Linked DNA regions of Homo sapiens: region 2 is linked to region 1. The links come from fine-mapping of genetic effects on gene expression. Tissue or cell type: minor salivary gland. Region 1 holds a variant in brackets; the other region holds the start of a gene. All regions are shown on one strand. Distances are between the middles of the regions.

Evidence for each region. PIP is the estimated chance that this variant, and not a neighbour inherited with it, causes the effect. A credible set is the group of variants that fine-mapping cannot tell apart.
Region 2: TUBAL3 starts here. The variant in region 1 is the best candidate, but not a certain one, in a credible set for the expression of TUBAL3 in minor salivary gland (GTEx, PIP 0.74).

Annotation. Positions count from the first base shown.
Region 1 is chr10:5,485,449-5,489,687 of GRCh38, forward strand. No RefSeq gene overlaps it. Among named protein-coding and RNA genes, the nearest start is that of CALML5, 12 kb to the right of the region's middle. The variant G/T (reference allele first, on the strand shown) is at 1,796.
Region 2 is chr10:5,402,648-5,406,886 of GRCh38, forward strand. It overlaps TUBAL3 (tubulin alpha like 3), which reads right to left and starts at 2,181. Exons shown (of 4, transcript NM_024803.3): 1 at 2,143-2,181. The coding sequence starts at 2,145.

The DNA of each region.
Region 1 (4,239 bases):
GAAGTCCAAGCTCACGTCCTGGTGGGGTGGGAAGCGTGGGTGGATGGAAAAAAAGGCAAAAATGCCTAACTGTGATGGATGCTCTGCAGAGCTAAGAGGGGTCTCGTAGTAAAGGGGGACAGGCTGATAGCTTTTATTAGAGATCGAGTCAGCGTCTCTGAGGGATGACGTTTATGCTGCGAACTCGGTGACAAGACGGAGCCAGGCAGAAAGTCCAGCTCAAGCTGCATCCCCGAGGCAGCAGCAGACCACCTGCCCACTCCTTCTGCCTGCCCACTGCTTCCTCATGCCCCACCTTCTGCAGCTTTTAGTCCCAGGCCGCCTGGCAGACTTCTCTGCAGATCTCAGGCTTCTCCCAAACAGGCCAACCCCAGAAGGGTGTCTGCCCCTGGACAACCATGCCAGGAAGGAGGCACATTGGGCTATTGAGATAACTCTAAAGGCAGAACTTTCAGAATTGAACATCAGTGACACTGAGAAACGAGGATCAGGAGGCCCTGTGAGCAGTCCAGCCCCTCCCCACAGGCATCCTCTCCAAGGCACCAGTCCACTTGCTTCCCAGCAGAAACATCCCAGGTCCAAAGGCAGGCAGAGAGCCGGCCTGGGAAGGGGCTACTCTGCACCCCAAAGTCTCCAGGAAGCCCCAAACTCACCCTGAGCCTGCAACACCCAATTATCCAAATGGTCTTCAAAGCCTCAGATGCTTTACAACCCAGTCCAGCAGCCTCTGACCCTCAATAGTATCAGCCCCAAATCCTGTGTGCTCAGAGCCTCCCAAGGCTTCCAGTCCAGCACCCTCCCCGACCTCGGCCACAGCTGTCACTTGTGCCCATGGAGCGCTAGGGCCCGGCACTGTGCCTGCAGATCACTGGGCTCCGTGTGTTTTGCTGCGGGAAGAAAGGGAAGGAGGGAGAGGAGGGAGGGAGAGGGTAGCTGGGGCAGGGAGACTGAAGGAAGAAGGGCATTAGCAGCTGTCACTCCTGGAGCGCTGGCCTCTCTGGAACGGGGTGCTCTCTGTCTGCATACTGGGGGCAGCGTCTTTCCTCTTCCTCTTCTCCTCTTCACAATGTCTGACAGTCCACACATCCAAGAGGGAAGGAGAGGGTTTCCAAGATACCTCAGACTCTGTGTGGATTCAGATTCTGCCTTGAAGCTGGTGGAGCTGGAGATTAGGAAGGGCCTGGGCCTGCAGGCGGAGGAGAGGCAGCTGTCCCTGCTGACTCCCCTCTCCCTGACCCTCCCCTCCTGGTCAGCACCTTCCTGGCTTGAGAGGAGTCCAGGACTTTCCTTTTCTCCAAATTCTGGAGACAGGCAGGCCCCAGGGTTAGAAGCAGCACCTTCTACCCTGTTCCGATCACAGCCTGAGTCTTGGACAAGGGCTCCTCCGGCTCTCAGTGGCTCCAGGATTCTGAGAACTCTGACATGCTTCCACCATCTGACAGGCAAGAGGCCAGATGGGCCTGGTTGGCCCACCCTCCCGATGGTACCAGCAGTAACTCTGACCCGGCAGGGTGTGGACACGGCTCAGCCTGGTGGGGCTGGAGTCTCTCCCGTCCCCTGCTCACTCCCCTCCCACCTCGTCCAGAACTGCTCAAGGCCCCGGGGTTACTAAGTCAGGCCCTGTCCCTCCAACGCCTTCCTCTCTGCTTCCCCTCCCCACGTCCCTTCCTTTCTCTGCTGACTGCCTCCACCTTCCCTCCTGTCCTAATCAGCTCAGGCTTAGGTGGCCGAATCTGCCTCCTACAGGGCCCATCTCCCTTGCCCTCCTTCATACCACACATCACTGCCAGCATAA[G/T]CTTCCTAAAGCACAATTTGGCCGCACGTCCCCACAGGTTAAAAACCTTCCGTGAGTCTCCATCTGATCTTCTGGGGAAGAAATAGCACTAATCTTGGTGACATTATGCAAAACACTTCTGCGGCCCCACAGACGCTGTTCTTAGCACTTTCTCCACATCCCCCACCCCCCACCCTCCTCACAACCACGTTGAGGCGGGTCTCACTGTTACCCCCAGCTACAGTTGAGGAGACTGAGGCAGAGAGAGCCACTGACTTGCCCAAGGCCATATCACCAGGCTTCACTGGGACTTGAAAAGGATCCAGACTCCTTCAGCAAACCATCAGGCTGTCTGCGACGGCATTCGGACCTCTCCCTTACCTCCCAGGCAGCGCGGGCTCCCCAAAAGACACTGACGCTCCCACTTCCAAACCGTCACTCATGCAGTTTCCTCACCAAGAACGCCCCACCCCTGTTGAAATCTGCCCCCGCCTCAGTGCCACTTCCTGGAAGTCTGTCCCCTTCTCTGAGCACCTCCTCGAATGGGAATCCACTGACGAGGGACCTGACCCACTGTCTTTGCATGGCCATTTATGTTACATCTCCTGGGCCCAGAGGCCGGCGCAGCGTCTCCCTCCAAGTCCCTGCAGACTCACAGTAAGGAGAAGCACCCAAGGAAACACTTGTAGAATAGTGAGTGAGTGAATGAAAGTCACCAACACCTCCTCCATGAAGCCACGACCACAAGGCTCCCGGTGCAGGAAAATACTGTTCATCAAAAGCACTGAGATTTGTTTTTGTTTGTTTTGTTTTTGTTTTTGTTTGAGACGGAGTCTTGCTCTGCCGCCCAGGCTGGAGTACAGTGGTGCGATCTCGGCTCACTGCAAGCTCCGCCTCCCAGGTTTAAGCAATTCAACTGCCTCAGCCTCCTGAGTCGTTTGGATTATAGGTGCCTGCCACCACGCCTTAATTTTTGTATTTTTAGTGAAGATGGGGTTTCACCATGTTGGCCAGGTTAGTCTCGAACTCCTGGCCTCAAGTGATCCACCTACCTCGGGTTTCCAAAGTGCTGGGATTCCAGTTGTGAGTCACCGTGCCCGGTCCAAAACACTGAGATTTGACTTCTTCCTAGGCCAAAGGTCATCTGGGCAGCAAGGCAGGAGCTCCCGGATCAGGAAAGTGCAGGCACACCATGTCTCTGAGTGGTGGGGTGGGGACAGAGGCTGGCAGGCCACCAACAGGGCAGCATCTGCTCCCAACCAAGGTGACTCAGACCTCGCCTTGTCCAACCTGCAGGCCTCCCAACAGTGGGGCTCTATAAGGCTGGCGTTCGCCTCCAGGGTTCTCCCCGACACTGGATGCCAACCTGCCCAGGGGCAGAAGGGAGGTTGGGCGTGGGGAGTGCCGGGTACAGTCAGAGTTGCCAGGACAGTTTGGAGCAGTGCCTCTTAATCTTGGCCGCACAGCACCTGGGAGCTTTAAATAGACCCCCACGCCTGGGCGCCCCCACCGCTGACCCACCAGGGCTCAGTGCAGGGGGATGGCTCACACGGCACATTCTCCAGAAGCTCCTGGGGTAGCTTCCAGGTGCAGCCGGGGTTGGGAATCGCTGGCTTATGCAACCCAGCAGAGAGGCGGGAAAGGCAGAGCTGAGATCGGGTGGGGCCACCTGTGGTGGGGAAAGAGATGAGCTCACACCTGGAGATGGTAAACAGTGCAAAAGCAAGAAGAAGCTTACAGAAGGAGTCGTTGGGCCTTTGCCCCAGCTGCAGCCACGTGAGAGGGAAGCCAGGGGAGGAGCAAGGTGCAGGCATCTGTGGGCTGGGCAGGGCCTGACTGCACTGGGCCCAGGCTGGGAAGGCCTCACCTGCTTCTCCAGCGGGAACGGAGGGCGACCTGCGCAGCCTAGGCACTGCGGCCGTGGTTCACATGCAAAAACTAAAAGCTGGACTCATTTCCAGAGAAACTGAGATAGAATACTCTACCTAAATTGTTTCTGGAACACATGATCACCATACCTGTTGGGAATCTGTTCTTGATGAGTTTTGTTGTTGTTGTTTTTATAAAAGGGGGACCCACTGTGGAGAGAGAAACAATGGCTTGAACTCTTAAAAGCTGGTCTTAGAGGTCTGGAGTCCACATCTTTGACTACCTGGCAGGGTGACATGCCTTTGATTCTCCCTATGTTTGGACCAAGAGGGGATGAGTTGGGATTTTGTGATCATACGAGGACTATTTTCATGGTTCTTGGACAACAAAAAGAGAGAACAAGACAGGAGTCCTCTCTCTGCAGTTGCATTTCTGACTCTTCCTCTTGTTGCAGAGTACAACTCTGTGAAGATTTCCTTTAATCCCATCAGCACTACGGAAGCCATCTCCCCCATGCTGGAGATGAGGCCTCCCGGGCAAAGGAGCCTGCCAGGTCGTGCCATCACAGTGCATGTGGAGGGTTTCATGCAGAATCC
Region 2 (4,239 bases), 83 kb before region 1:
ACAGAAGGAGGTGAGCAGCAGGTGAGTGAGCATTACTGACTGAGCTCTGCCTCCTGTCGGATCAGCGGCAGCATTAGATTCTCATAGGGGCACTAACCCTATTGTGAACTGCGCATGCAAGGGATCTAGGTTGTGTGCTCCTTATGAGAATCTAACTAATGCCTGACGATCTGAGGTGGAACAGTTTCATCCAGAAACCATCCCCACTGCCGACTCCATGGAAAAATTGTGTCCCACAAAACTGGTTCCTGGTGCCAAAAAGTTGAGGACCACTGGTCTACACAGACCACTAGTCAGAGGAAAGTAAGGAGAGGGCTCTGGTCGGCCACACCCCTGCAATCTGACTTGGACTCTGTTCATGCTCAATGGCATCAAACCTTTGTACTTTGTCTCTGTGATTCACAAGGCATAACAGCCCTCTGCTTCATGACCAATTCAAGTTCACTACCTTAGTAGGGCTTCCATCTTGTTTATTTTCTGTGCAACTATCAGTCTCTCTAATTTAGAAAGCACTTCATTTAGGACAAACTAATATTCCACCTCTCAAGACAGCATATTCTGTTATAAACAGGCTTCGAATACCCCTTATCAGGCTTCAGATAACCTTAATCTTATTCCTCTCCCCTTCTGTCGGACTTAAAGTGCTGCAAATACATCAGCTGCTGTAATCTGATCAAAACTTGGCTCCTTAAATTTAAGTTAACATTTTAAAAGGAGAGGGTGAACGTTCATTGTTTCTACATCATTAAAACCTCTTACTTTGTAAAGTTTACATGTAGATTTCTCTGTCTTCTCCACTGGCTACCACCCAGTCCTGTGTTACAGTGACGAGTAAAATTCAGGTGTACATGTGGTATTTGTTCATAATAGTCACAGTAAAAATAATCACTAACATTAAAAAAAAAAAAGATTGTTCCTCTTCACGTGGTCTGTTCAAGTGACTCAGAAAGCAGAGTGATGCTGTTCTTTTTGAAATCAGCACGAATAGCCTGGACTAACAAGCATCCTTCGTCTTTGAAGGAGCTTAGCTTATAACATAACTCTGTCCAAGGGTGTAGAAGACTATCTTTGCCTTATTCTTCTCTTAGCCTCTCCCTTTTTTTCCAAATTCTCTATGAAAATATTAGTCACACTATAAAGTAGAAGACTATAAAATGTCCACTGAACGTCAACACTGATAAGTCATAGCACATTATTAAACGCTGCTATAAGGATTATTTGAATTACTAGAAAAGCATAACTCTCAGTTAAACTTTCAATTTTGAGGTCTTTGTAGATTGATATGCAGCTGTGAGAAATAACATAGGAAGATCCCTTGCATCCGTTACCCATTTCCCGCAGTGGAAACATCTTGCAAGACCATAATACAAAATCACACCCAGAATGTTGACAGTGATAAGATACAGAACATGCTATTATCACAAGTCTCTCTCATGTTGAAAGGCATAATTTTTAAAAGCAAAACAATTTAAAATTTTTTAAATGTTGGACAGAGAGACCAATGGGGTGAGAAATCAAAGATCAAGAAGCAGTTCGAAATGTTGCTTCCATTGAAGAATTAAAAATTCAAAGATACTGAAAAACTGGCACAGAAAAAAATAAAGGGCAAATGGATCTGAAAAGGTCATCCCAAAACAGAATTATTGTAAGTTATTCTATTCATTGTGGTGCCCAAAGAACTAAACTCAAGGGAGGGCAAAGAAGATGTCTGCGCACTTTACCCTGCCAGGCATTTATGAGGTTAGCCACGGTTACCTAAGTCTGAAGTCCTCAGAAACTCTTAACAGCCTAACGAAAAGTGAAGCAATGAATATCTACAGAAAAATCAGCACTCTGGGCCTAAAACAAAGGTGAAAACTAAAGGAAGGAAAGGTTTTTGCTTCAGTGCTTCAATTAATGGCAGTGAGCTACTGCAAATCAACTGAGCTTTACCTTGAAAGAAGCAACATTACAGAGGAATAGATTACAGCCTGTCCACATCTGCTCCCAACTCATCTACTTGGACATTGAAAGAAACAAATGTTTCTTTACAAATGTCTTCTCTTGCATTACAATTTTATTAAGAATTGTTTGCTGTGGGAAAAGGGCCAAATATGATTAGTAAAATTTCCTACAACAATGCATAGGCGTGTAGTCACTTACCATGCTGATGAGAACGTGCCCTTCCTGCCCTGTAGTAATGACTGAGGAGCCTCCCAGCTGAGCTTTATCACAGGGCCCGGAAATGACTCCACCTGAGGGCTGGAGCTTTCTTCACTTAAAGCAGTATAGCTTCTTTTTAGTTTTTTTAGTTATCTGGTCTCAGAGTAGCTGTGTTGGGCCTGAACAACCCGGGATAAAGTTTGTACACAGCTGCAGATGAACTACTGAGAGCTTATCCAAATCTGCGTCCAACTTATAACTATGTTGAAAAGAACATGTGTCTTTTAAAAATCACCCTTTTGGGTTAAGAATTTATTTAGCATTGGCAGAGAAAAGGAAGGAGTATGAGTAAAATTTTCTGCAACAGCAAAGTAGCTTTTTCTATTGCATGAGTACTATGTGAATATCTTCTTAAATAAATTTAAACAATCCCTGAATACATACAGCAAACCAAGACAGTGTCCTTTTTACATCTGTGTCCTATGCATGCCTCTCAACCACTACCACATCCAAACATATGGGAATTTTCTGTTTTTATTATTATTGTCTTTTGAACTTTTATATTATTATACATAATATATACTTATGTTATTATTTTTTATTAATTGCACTAAGATCAGATCACACATCTTAACTGAGTTCTCTCCTTATATATTTGCTAAAGCTTCCTTTATATTCTACTATATGGTCAATTTTTGAAAATATTCCATGAGTGTTGAAAAGAATGTGCATTCTACATTTGTTGGATGCAATATTTTAGATAGACCGATCATTCAATCAATCAATCTATTAAATCAAATGGATTTATTGTGTAGTCCAAATTTTACGTATCAATTATTTCAAAAGATGTATTAAAAGTTTTCATTATAATTGTGAATTTACCCATTATTTCTTTTTCTGTCAATTTTTCCTTTATACATTTTGAGGCCATGTTATGAAGAGCACATAAATTTTAAATTATTATATTTTCAAAAACTTTAACAATTTTTTATTTTTAAATTACCCTCCTTATATACATTAATTATTTTTACCTTAAAGTTTTTTTTTTTTTTTTTTTGAGATGCAGTCTTGCTCTGTCGTCCAGGTTGGAGTGCAATGGTGCGATCTCAACTCACTGCAACCTCCACCTCCCAGGTTCAAGCGATTCTTCTGCCTCAGCCTCTCAAGTAGCTGGGATTACAGGTGTGTGCCACTATTCCTAGCTAATTTTTTTGTATTTTTGATAGAGACAGGGTTTCACCATGTTGGCCAGGCTGGTCTTGATCTCCTGACCTCGTGATCTGCCCGCCTTGGCCTACCTTAAAGTTTTTATGATCAAATATTAATATTACTACTTTAATACAGTTTTTTGGTTCACATTTGAATGATGTATTTTCCCATCGTTTTACATTCTTAGAAACTTAAAACCTTTCCATATTCTCATATTTTGGATGTGTTCTTTGTATGCATGATATAACTGAATTTTTTTTCTATTTTTGTATTTGAATTGGAGAATTCAGCTCATTACATTTAATATAATAACTAATATAGTTGGGTTTAGATATAGAGTACTATTTTATTTTGTGCTTTCTGTTTGTCTCCATTTTCTAAGTTCTCTTTTCTTCCTGATCTTCTTTTGAATTAATGACATGTTTTGTTAGCATAGTAACAATTTTATTATTCAGTAATCAAAACAAAATTTCTGTTACTCAAGAATCTTGGTTTCTACCAATTCTTCCTTACAACTTTGAGAAAATGAAGAAACCATAGTGTTCTTCAGCAATTTTCTCCTGAACTTATTATAAATTATACTTTCTCTCATTTTGATCTTCATAAAGTCAATCCTATCTGTCTCTGTCAATAACTCCCCAAATGTTTAGCATCCTGGTAGTTCCATATAATGAAAAGAAAAATTAAGCCAGTTCCATTTTATAAAATCAGAATGATATTTATTTTGTTGCTGTATCAAATTTTCTCCCACTGGTCCCAGATATTTTCAGTTTGAAACAAGATGAGGGAAAAATCAGATAATGTGAGTATCTCATTTCTAGTCCACTGATGTACTCAGTATCTTTCATTAACTTTTAAAAATTGTCAGTCTGACATGGAGCTATGATT